Homo sapiens: one gene and its partners. The gene in region 1 interacts genetically with each later gene. Each region holds a gene or a part of one and is shown on either strand. Other genes may lie near its edges. The genes, in order: GGPS1, FASN and ATG7.

Region 1 (3,646 bases):
ATTTTTAGTAGAGACAAGGTTTTGCCATGTTGCCCAGGCTGGTCTCGAACTCCTGGGCTTAAGCTATCCGCCCGCCTCAGCCTCCCAAAGTGCTGGGATTACAGGCGTGAACTACCGTGCCCAGCAACAGAATCTTCTTTTTAAACCAGACTAGGTGTCTTTTCACAAACACCCTGCAATACAAATTCCTTTGCAGTTTGACACTGAAAGATGATTAGTTTCATGTGATCTTTATGTTTCTCCTTTTTGACAGATTAGCTTTGAAGTTTAAATCCAATGGAGAAGACTCAAGAAACAGTCCAAAGAATTCTTCTAGAACCCTATAAATACTTACTTCAGTTACCAGGTAATACTTCACTTACAGTCCATATAGGGTCATTTTCATGCAGTAGTGGTCGTTCAAATGTTAGCAAATAGAAAAGGTTAGACTTGCTAGCCGTTGAGATTTTCTATTTAAGGTGATGCGTATGAGAAAAATGATAAATAGAACATTATAATTTTTTCTTTATTAAAAGGTAATTTTTGCCAGGTGCAGTGATACATACCTGTTGTCCCACCTACTTGGGAGGCTGAGGCAGGAGGATGGCTTGAGCCCAGGAGTTTAAGGCTATAGTGCACAATGATCACACCTGTGAATAGCCACTACACTCCAGCTTGGGCAACATAGTGAGACCCCGTCTCTTAAAAAGAAACGTAATTTTTGAAGGCACCCTTTAAAACATATCCAATTATTTAACATATCTTGAAAAATAAAAATACTTAAAACATTTTGGTATCTCATTGGAGGTTGTACTCTTTACGGATATTACGCATTCAGATTCCCCACTGTTTAGATATTAGGGGAAGTTACGCAGATTTGTTTAACAGTAGAACACTTTATTTACCATACATGTTCAAGTTTACCTTCTATGTCTGTATTTTCCAGTATCTCACACATACACTGCATTTCATATACTACTGGTTCCTTTGAGAGCCAAATAATAATGTATCTAAAATCACAGTATTTGGAAATATAGCCCACTTTATTCCTGTATAAGGGTATGCCACCTTGGACATGGCTTCCTACCTCACGTGTACGTGTGTGTTTTTGTTTTATTTTGCTTCTTTAAAAACTTGTCTGGAGGCTGGGCGTGGTGGCTCACGCCTGTAATCCCAGCACTTTTTGAGGCCAAGGCGGGCGGATCATGAGGTCAAGAGGTTGAGACCAGCCTGGCCAACATGGTAAAACCCCGTCTCTACTAAAAACACAAAAGTTAGCTGGGCATGGTGGCGCATGCCTGTAGTCCCAGCTACTCGGGAGGCTGAGGCAGGAGAATCACCTGAACCTGGAAGGCAGAGGTTGCAGTGAGCTGAGATTGCATCACTGCACTCCAGCCTGGCAACAGAATGAGACTCCGACTCAAAAAAAAAGAAGAACTTGTCTGGAAATGATAATAAGCAAAAACTCATGAATATAATAAACAGGGGTTATTGTAATAAAAAATCATTTGTATTAGAATATTCTTTCTCATAGACATAATATAGGCCAGGTGTGGTGGCCCACACCTGTATTCCCAGCACTTTGGGAAGCCAAGGCAGGATTGCTTGAGACCAAAAGTTTGAGACCACCTTGGGCAACATAACAAGTCCCCCTCTCTGTTTTAAACATTTTTTAAAAAAGAAGAAATAATATAAAAGTTGGTAAATTATTTGACAAGCATAAAAACCTATTTAGCCATACTGTGACTAAACTCTAATGATGCTCTCAATTCAGTCTCAATAGACACTTTTAAATTTCCGTGCTAAAGTACACACCTTTCTTTATGAGCACTTCTCTGTGGTAATATGTGCATTTCTGTTCTTCATGAGCCTGGGAAGGATAAAAGCCAAAAGAATGCTTGCTCCTGTGCTACACCTTGGAAACCATAATTAGTGTCATTTTTATTTTGGCCGACCCTAATAGAGACTCGCCTGCTAATGTCAATGCATGAGAAGAATGAGGGAATGACAGAAATGGAGAATTCAAAGGGAAGGTTGCCCACTGTTTAAGAAAAAGCCAAGAGACTGCTTTTGAGTGACATTTATCCAGCAGTTAGTAACTTATTTCAGTATCTCCCAGTGAGAAACATGGCACAGTTTCACTTTCACTCTACCCAGCTCTTACTGCCAGACATCCTTTAGAACACGCTCACAAACACTAGCTGGAACTGGGCTGGCATTAATAGCAAGCCAGTTATCAGTGCTGACAAAAGTCTAACAAGCATCGCTTGAATGTCTCTTACTCTGCTACTTACAAAGCAAGGACTGCCTACAGTTACATTTTAACCATAATGCTTACTTATGCTGTGACCACCTTCTGTGACTTCCTTTTTTTTAATTCTCATTACTTGGAAATAATGTTTTAAGACATTAGATAACATATTTAAAATTATCACTAGGTACCTCACCTTTTTATTCAAGTACGTTCTTGATCCATGATGGAATACAACCTCAAAAGATACTACTAAAGAAATATGACATTGCACTATGCACATAACACACTTATTTTTTTACAGAGAGCTTCAGAGTTACTAAAGTAACTTAGAGGTGTGCCAGGTCATTTATACTGTTGTAATATTACTCTTGCTAATAAATAATAATAATGCTATCAGTATTTTCTGAAGTCAACCTGGCCAACATGGTGAAACCCTGTATCTACTAAAAATACAAATATTAGCCAAGTATGGTAGCGCATGCCTGTAGTCCCAGCTGAGGCACGGGAGTCACAGGAGCCTAGGAGGCAGAGGTTGCAGTGAGCCGAGATCACGCCACTGCACTCCAGCCTGGGCAACAGAGTGAGACACTGTCTCAAAAAAAAAAAAGGATTTTCTGAAATTAGTAAAGAAAATTATTTTTATTTTTAAATTTCTCATACTTGCTGTCATCTTATGTTTATGTTTGTTTATTTGCCTTAGTGTGGGGCCCTAGATGAGGTGAAGGGTGGGATTAGGGAGAGATGAAGCTGGCAGTGGAGGAAGAAGGGCTCCAAAAAGAGAGACAATAATGTTTAGATCTTAAAGAGGAAGCAGTAATCTTTTAATTTTGAGAGATCTCTGTGATTAGCCTCAGTACTAGAAATTATTTTGGAACTCAGCCAGGCGCGGTGGCTCACATCTGTACTCCCAGCACTTTGGGAGACCGAAGTGGGCAGATGGCTTAAGCCCAGGAGTTCAAGACCAGCCTGGGCAACATGGCAAAACCCTGTCTCTACTAAAAATACAAAAAATTAGCCAGGCATGTGATACGCCCTTGTAGTCCCAGCTTACCTGGGGGACTGAGGTGGGATGATTACCGGAGCCTGGGAGGTTGAGGCTGCAGTAAGCCAAGATCACACCACTGCACCCCAGCCTGGGTGATTAAGGGAGACCCCGTCTCAGAAAAAAAAAAGGGGGGGAAACTTAAAAGCATCAGGCTAAACACTAGCATGTCATCAGAGGGGAAAAAAATATTAAAACTGTAGTACCTCAAAAATAAGCCATATATTGTACTGTTTTCTATATAACATTCAAAAGTAAAATGAAAAATGAAATTTCACATTGAGACTCTGTTTTTCATCTTCAAAAAAATGTGTTTAAGTGATACAGGCCAAGTGCAGTGGCTGACTTATTATCCCAGCACTTTGGGAGGC
Region 2 (4,260 bases), on another chromosome or scaffold:
CAGGCCTGCTCTCAGGAGAGGAAGGAAGCGGGACACCTGCAGAGGGGCCGGGGGCCCCAGTCTCCGGTTCCCCTTCAGCGGCCCGGGCTTGCTGAGCCCTCAAAGTAGGACACGCAGCCAGAGACACCTGTGGCCTCACAAGGCCCGCTTGCCCCCCATGGGGTGCCTGGCCCCGCAAGCGCGAAGCGGTCAGAAAAGGGAGGCCGCGCTTCAGGGCTCAGGCCGCCCAAGGGGCCACGATTCGAGGAATCACTCGGGAGGGAGGGAGCGCGCGAGGGCCGGGCTGAGCCCCCGCCCGTGGGTGCGCGCCTGGAAAACTCGCAGCCTCCGCCCTGGGAAGTGGGGCAGCGGCTCCCTTTGTCCGCACCACACCAGGTGGGTGTCCCGGCCGACTCCGCTCGCCACGTGGCCGCGCCCCTCCCCTCCGCCGAGCTCCAGCGGCCTGGAGTGCGCTCGCCCGTTCGGCCCTGCGCCTCGTCCGGGTCCCCGGGAAGCTGCTAAGGAGGGGCCGTCGGGTGGGTGGACGTCCGTCTCGGGTCTGGGTTCCCCGCCGCACCCGCGAGGAAAACCGGGGATGCGCTGCGATGACCGGCAGTAACCCCGGCCGGGGCGCCCGCGGCCGGGGTCAACGCCCGCACTTGCGCCGCGGCCCGCGAGGCATCCGGGACCGCCCCGCCGCCCGCCCATCACCCTATCGCCTAGCAACGCCCACCCGCGCGCCGCCATTGGGCCGGTGCGAACACCCCTGGCGCCCGATTGGTTGCTGCTGCCGCCGCGCCGCGCAACGCCGCGCCCTCAGCCAGCTCCGCGCGGGCAGCGACGGCGGCGTGGAGTCGGCGGCCGAAGTGCGGGCACGCGGGTCCGTCCGTCCTTCCGCGCGCCTGTGGGTCCGAGCGCCCCGCCGCAGCCGGCTGGACCCCCGGTGTGGCCACGGGGTAGTCCCCAGTGTGGCCCAAGCATTCCCATCCCGCACACGTGGCCCCGGCGGACACGGGGGTCGGGGATGGCTCGGGAGGCGCGCCGCGGGCTCGGTCGCAGCCGCGTGCGCGTCGGGGCCCGCGGGGCGGGAGGCGGAAGTCGGGGGGCGGTGGTTTCCCGCCCGCCCCGCCCCCGGCGCTCCTCAGTCCCAGCCCCACCCCCCCAGGCGCGTTCCCGCGCAGGGTCCCGGCTCGGGCGGCGGCGCGCACGAGCATCACCCCACCGGCGGCGGCGCGCCGGGTCCCGGGGCGCAGCCCCGACGCTCATTGGCCTGGGCGGCGCAGCCAAGCTGTCAGCCCATGTGGCGTGGCCGCCCGGGGATGGCCGCGGTTTAAATAGCGTCGGCGCCGGCCTAGAGGGAGCCAGAGAGACGGCAGCGGCCCCGGCCTCCCTCTCCGCCGCGCTTCAGCCTCCCGCTCCGCCGCGCTCCAGCCTCGCTCTCCGCCGCCCGCACCGCCGCCCGCGCCCTCACCAGGTACGAGCAGCCGGCGCTGGGGCCGGGGCGCGGGTCGTGGTCGGGGCTGGGCCCGGGGTTCCCGGGGTGGCCCGGCTCCTCATCCTCCGCTCTCGGGGCGCGCGTGGCCCGGCCCCGTATCCAGGGGTCGCCTGGGCGGCCTGTCCGGGTCTCGGTGTTCGTGCCCCTTCGGAGGCGCCCGGGGCCCCGCGGAGTAGGTGGGCGGATGGCGGGGGAAGGACGCCGGGGAAAGCCACCAACAGCCGCCTTCGCTTCCCGTGGGGGAGGCCGCGGACCCTGAAGGGCCTGGAGGAGCCCCCGGCTCGGCCTCCCCGCGCCCACAAAGGCGCCGCCGCATCCTCCTCCCGGAGCCGCCCCGGAGCCGAGGCCCAGCCCGAAGGGGACGCCGCGAGGGAGGAACGGGGGGGCGCAGGGGCCGCGCCGGGACCGGCCTCCCCATCACGTGGCGCAGCCCGGCCGAAGCGCAGGGGTCCCGAGCAGCCCCCGCCCGGGGCGAAGGGAGGCCGGGCGCGCCGCGGTGTTCCCACCCCCTGCCTGGCCGTCGACCCCGCGTGAATAGCAAGCGGCGAGGACCCAGCGTGCGGGCCTGGAGCTGGCCCGGGGCAGCCAAGCCTCTGTGAATCGCAGCGGGTGGGAAGGCGGCCGCCTCCCTGCCGGGACGGCCCAAGGGAGGCCGCACTGCCGAGGGGCGGCGCGCGTATCAGGCCCTGGGGCCTCGTGCAAGTGGCCAGACCAGCGCTGGCCTCCGCCCCCTCCCCCCAGGGCCGCACCAGCCCTCATGCTGGAGGAGGAGCCGGCGGCCTGGGCACCCGTTCCGGGTCTTAGGGACCTGGGCTCCAGGGAGGGCCTCCTGTGGTGTGTGGGTTGGTATGGGGAGGCAAGCGTCTGTGGGTTCACCCGCGCAGGTGAAGGGTGCCAGGCAACACCTGCGTGTCCTGGCCAGGAGTGGTTCTCCAGGTTGGACCCTGCTGGAGGGGTTGGACTGGCTGGGTCGGTCCACAGTGGGGCAGGGGCCACCTTTCCCCCAGAGCATAGGCTATCCCCATTTCGTCCCTCCCCAGCCCTGGTGGCTCTTGGGCTGGCCTGGACAGCGGGCCCCCACCCCAACACGGGTGAGCATGGGTGCTGAGTACCCCCCTCTAGGGCTCCCAGCCACCTCCATGCCCCGGCTTTGGGACCCTGCCTCTCCATTTCTTTGATGGCCCTTAGCAGGCTGGCCACCTGAGGCCTTGTCCCCATCTCAGGTGACCCTGCCTGCTCCTCACTGTGAGCCCCCTGGTGCCCTAGGGATGGCCTGGGACAAGCTCCAGGAGCCTTGGAAGGCTGAGACTCAGGCGAGTGGAAGCCGACACAGGCGCAGAAACCAGTAACTGCTGGGGAGGCCAGGGCTGCAGGGCTCCAGTGGGGTACCCCAGCCAATACCCTGAACTGAATGGGTCAGGGCCCAGAGGCGGGCCTGTTCCCAGAGCACGCAGCCCCTCCCAGCGAGAGCGGGGTCAGGGCCCAGGAACTGGCCACATGAGGAAGGGAGCCGCAGGAGCCAGGGCCCGCACGGACCCTCAGGGTGGTGCTTGGCCCCATGGGTGTCCACCTGTTCTGGGTGCCGAGGCTGTTGACGGGGGTGTCGTGGCCGGGATGTGTGGGGCACTCACACCGCCCGCCCTGCAGAGCAGCCATGGAGGAGGTGGTGATTGCCGGCATGTCCGGGAAGCTGCCAGAGTCGGAGAACTTGCAGGAGTTCTGGGACAACCTCATCGGCGGTGTGGACATGGTCACGGACGATGACCGTCGCTGGAAGGCGGGTATGTGGCTGCGGGGCTCCCCGTGCCTGGGGTGTGAAGCTCCATCTCCACCTTTGTCCTCACAGCAGCCTCCCTGCTGTGCTGTGTCCTCACCACCCAGGCACTGGCCTGAGGCCGGTCCCAGCTGCAGAGCCACTGGTCACCCATGGGCGAGGCCTAGCTGCAGCCTCCTTCCTGGACATTGCACCAGAGTGGCCTAGAAAATGCGCCCAGCCTGCCAGGAGGTTCCCTCAACGGCTGCAAGGCCAACAGGAGGCTCCCCCAATGGCTGCAAGGCCGAGGGCTGGCCCAGGCAGGGCCCATCTGCTTGTTACGGAGGAGCCAAGCTCAGAGGATGGGTGACGGGCTGGGGTCTCTCACCCATGCAGGGGGTGCGGGGGGCCAGAGCCCTTCCGGCCAGGCTGCCCCTGCCTGTGTCTGTCCTGAGCTGGGAGGTTGCATACCAGATGTGCTCCGGGAGGCTGGAGCAACTGCCCCACACCCAGTAGGCTCTTCCACAGAGCAGCTCTACCTGACAGGCAAGCTGTGAGTCAGCATGGTAGAGCCGAGGCACCAGCCCGGCAGATGGTCCCCCAGCCTCACTCCCGCCGAGCTCTCTGCTCTGCGGCCCATCTCAGGATTGGGGCTTGGGGCTTGGGGCTTGTGCAGCAGATCTGGTCGTACCAGTCCCCGCTTTGGGGCCATGGTCTTCCCCTCCTGGGGAGCCTGCTCCATTGTTTGGGCCTCCCAGGCATAGCAGAGAGTCCTCAGTTCCACCATGGCCCCTCCAGGGGCCTGCAGCACCCCACAGGGCCCCCACCTCTGGGCAGCTTCCGTCAGAGATTTAAACACCCGCCTGTCCCACAGGGCTCTACGGCCTGCCCCGGCGGTCCGGCAAGCTGAAGGACCTGTCTAGGTTTGATGCCTCCTTCTTCGGAGTCCACCCCAAGCAGGCACACACGATGGACCCTCAGCTGCGGCTGCTGCTGGAAGTCACCTATGAAGCCATCGTGGACGGAGGTGGGT
Region 3 (3,646 bases), on another chromosome or scaffold:
AGCTGACATGGTTCCTTTCTCATAGAATTTTTATTCTACTGAGGAGGATAACTGCATACGTGCTATGAAGGTAAGGTAGTTGGTGCTCTTTGAGGACTAGAATACAGGAGGATCGACCTAATCCAGAGCTGAGGGAGTCAGGGAAGGCTTCCCTCAGAAGTGATGATTGAGCTGTGATTTGAAGTGAGCAAAGAAATTCACTAGATGATGGGTATGTGGAGGTGGCCAAGAAAATTCTAAGCTTATGCAGAGGCCATGGGGTGTTTCTGCAGCTGATGATGTGGAGCTGAGTCAGCTTCCTCCCTTTGCCTGGAGAGTCCCCACTCCCTACCTCTAGCCTCCTCATCCAGGGGTCCTTGCATGGGGCTAGTGCTGTCATCTAACCCTCCCTTTCTCAACCATCAGGGGTGGGTTTAGAAGTTTGTGGAGCTGTTTTATTTTGCTTTGTTTTGTGACATTGACCAGAGGGCATTACTGCATTTATTGAGAGAGAGCCAGAGATGCTCAACATTCTGCAGTGTGCAGGGATAGCTCTAAACAAAAAAGAATTGTTCCATCCAGCATGCCAGTAGGGCCCCTGTTGAGAATCTACTTGGATGTTCTTAAAACCTTGGGTTAAGGGTTTCTATAGGATATTCTTAAAACCTTGGCTTGGCTGGGTGTGGTGGCTCACGCCTGTAATCCCAGCACTTTGGGAGGCCGAGGCGGGTGGATCACAAGGTCAGGAGTTCGAGACCAACCTGACCAACATAGTGAAACCTTGTCTCTACTAAAAATACAAAAATTAGCCAGGCATGGTGGCGGGTGCCTGTAATCCCAGCTACTCAGGAGGCTAAGGCAGGAGAATCGCTTGAACCCGGGAGGCAGAGGTTGCAGTGAAGCCGAAATTGAGCCACCTCCCTCCAGCCTGGGTGACAGAGCAAGACTCTGTCTCAAGACTCCGTCTCAAAAAACAAAAAATAAAAAGCAAACAAACAAAAAAACCCCACCTTGGCTTAAGGGTTTCTATAGGAAACACTGTTGCCTCATCAGTCTAATTTAGATATCCCTCCTCCTATAACATTCTGTACAAACGCCAGGCTATACTGTATTTGTTTTACCTCCAAATTGCTATACTCCGATTCCTCTTCTGTTTTGTTGTCTGTTTTGGCTTCAAAATTGTTAGCTCTTTAAAGGTGGGGACCATAGTTTTTTTTTTTTTTGCCATTGAACCCTGAAATGTAGCACAGGGACAAGTATGTAACATAACTGTTTATTGAAGAAATAACTAATGGAAGCCCCAATTTCATTTCTTTTCTTTTCTTTTTTTTTTTTGAGACAGAGTCTTGCTGTGTCACCCAGGCTGGAGTGCAGTAGTGCTATCTCAGCTGACTGCAACCTGCGCCTCCCGGGTTCAAGCAATTCTCAAGCTTCAGCCTTCCGAGTAGCTGGGATTACAGGCGCCTGCCACCATGCCCGGCCCTTTTTTTGTATTTTTAGTAGAGACGGGATTTCGCCATGTTGGCCGGGCATGTTATTGGTAAACAATATGATATTAGTCCTGCTTTTTGAGTGTCTCCTATGGGCCAGATGTATGCATTTTCTAGTTGAATCTTCACACTAATTCTGCACAGTAGGTGGTATCCCCATCTAACAGAAGAGGAAACAGACTCGGAGAAGTTGAATGACTTGTCCAAGGTGGTGTGGCTAGAAAGTAGCAGAGACAGGATTTGAACTCAGGTCTCTCTGGCTCATGAACCTATGCCCTTTCCAGTCTAGCAGACCATCTGCCTTGTCCAGTTGTTTTCTTGAACTTAGATTTAGGGCCCTAGATTTACCTCTATGAAATTTCAAATCTTGTTAAAATAGGCCTGCCATTCCAGATGGTTGGAATCTTTTTTTATCCTGAATTTTAGTCACTTGTATTGCCTGTTTCTTCTTTTGTCATGAAATTGATAAGCAAATCTATATCATTATCCAAGTTATTGGTAAAATATGGTAATAAGAATACTTTATTGAATATGTTTATTTGCCTATTCCCCCTGCTCTTAGCCCCAGCACAGGGTTCAGTGCACATGAAATACTTAGTAAATGTTGATAAATATTCATTCATGTGGATAAATAAAATAAATTGGACAGGCCCAGAGACTAAGCCAAAGACGTACTGCTATTAGCTCCTTTCTAATTAACATTAATTAATTCAGTAACCAAGATCCTTTGAATAAGATTATTTTACCAGTTCTTAATCCCTCTAATTATGTCAGGATCCAATTCCTGTATCTTCACCTTGTCTACCGGGATTTCTAGAGCAGCCTTGTGAGAGACATTTCTGAGACCTGTATGTCCTGCGTCTATGATTCTTCCCTGATCAAGGTAGGAATGCAGTTACTCTGTCATGACTTTTTCTTAGAGAAACCATATTGGCCTCTTGTGATTACTTAGGGCTGCCTCATACAGTTATGCAGGCTGTGCACTGCACAAGAGGCCACATCAAAGGGGGTTCCATTTATATCATAGGTATCATGGGTGCATTTTTGTAATGACAGTGGCAGAGAAGGCTACCATGTCTTGAGCTAATCTAATCAGTATATTACAACATTTCTCTAACTAAAGGAAGTAAAATCTTGAAGCAGAGGTGTAATTTTCTGATTGTACAAAGGTGCTAAGTGGACTAGAGTGGCCCATATGGGCCTTTCCTGGGAGCAAAACTTCTGTCCAGTGGTCTTTAGAACCCATCTTTATTCTTATCTTTGAAAAATCAGGCCGGGTGTGGTGGCTCACGCCTATAATCCCAGTACTTTGGGAGGCTGAGGCAGGTGGATCACCTGAGGTCAGGAGTTCGAAACCAGCCTGGCCAATATAGTGAAACCCTATCTCTACTAAAAATACAAAAAATTACCTGGGCGTAGTGGCGGGCGCCCATAATCCCAGCTACTTGGGAGGCTGAGGCAGGAGAATTGCTTGAACGTGGGAGGCAGAGGTTGCAGTGAGCCGAGATCGTGCCATTGCACTCTAACCTGGGCAACAAGAGCGAAACTCCATCTCAAAAAAAAAAAAAAAAAGAGAAAAGAAACAAAGAAAAATCAAACATTTTGAAAATCGGAAATCAGGCCTTTGCTTGGCCCAGTTTTAAAGTACTTCTCCCGTTTCTCAGGATTCTTTAAACATACCAGAAATGAAAACCACAGAGATGTAATTATTTAGAAGCAAGCCTTCATAACTCAGCCAGCTTTTAGGAAACCATCATAGATTTTAGTTGTTGGTTGGCATAGGGCTCCACAGTGATTTAGACAAATCCAGGTGGGTGTCTCTCAGATGAACAGAGAAATGGGCAACACTGTTGATCAGTGGAGGTAACAAAAGGACTCAGAAGGAGGCACACTGCCCTCCATCTTCCTGGCATTATTGCTTCCTCTCTCCTCTTTCCCACATTTTCTCAGCTGTCACTGTCCCTCCCATGTAGGCTTCTCAAACCCCATAATGCTGGTATCCAGTGCATCCGTTCTCAAAAACTGAAGCTGATGGACACCAGATTGCATGTGAAGGTGAAGGATATTATAGCAGAAGGAAACCAAAATAAAAGAAAAACAGCTCCTGGAAGTAACCAATGAGAAGGACAGATAAGAGTTTGAAGACTGTGGATGTGACTGCTTGTTCCCTGGTTGAC

Evidence for each region.
Region 2: changes in GGPS1 (region 1) and FASN together harm fitness more than expected from each alone (negative genetic interaction), as found in Homo sapiens cells (one large-scale study listed by BioGRID).
Region 3: of GGPS1 (region 1) and ATG7, changing one enhances a phenotype caused by changing the other (phenotypic enhancement), as found in Homo sapiens cells (one large-scale study listed by BioGRID).

Annotation. Positions count from the first base shown.
Region 1 is NC_000001.11:235,334,989-235,338,634, forward strand, and holds part of GGPS1 (geranylgeranyl pyrophosphate synthase), read left to right. Parts: intron 1-253; 5' UTR 254-276; coding exon 277-346; intron 347-3,646. UniProt on the Homo sapiens protein: Catalyzes the trans-addition of the three molecules of IPP onto DMAPP to form geranylgeranyl pyrophosphate, an important precursor of carotenoids and geranylated proteins.
Region 2 is NC_000017.11:82,095,314-82,099,573, reverse strand, and holds the start of FASN (fatty acid synthase), read left to right. Parts: upstream 1-1,337; 5' UTR 1,338-1,453; intron 1,454-3,121; 5' UTR 3,122-3,128; coding exon 3,129-3,255; intron 3,256-4,101; coding exon 4,102-4,254; intron 4,255-4,260. UniProt on the Homo sapiens protein: Fatty acid synthetase is a multifunctional enzyme that catalyzes the de novo biosynthesis of long-chain saturated fatty acids starting from acetyl-CoA and malonyl-CoA in the presence of NADPH.
Region 3 is NC_000003.12:11,278,751-11,282,396, forward strand, and holds part of ATG7 (ubiquitin-like modifier-activating enzyme ATG7), read left to right. Parts: exon of another isoform or gene 1-70; intron 71-2,243; 5' UTR 2,244-2,352; intron 2,353-3,419; exon of another isoform or gene 3,420-3,442; 5' UTR 3,443-3,646. UniProt on the Homo sapiens protein: E1-like activating enzyme involved in the 2 ubiquitin-like systems required for cytoplasm to vacuole transport (Cvt) and autophagy.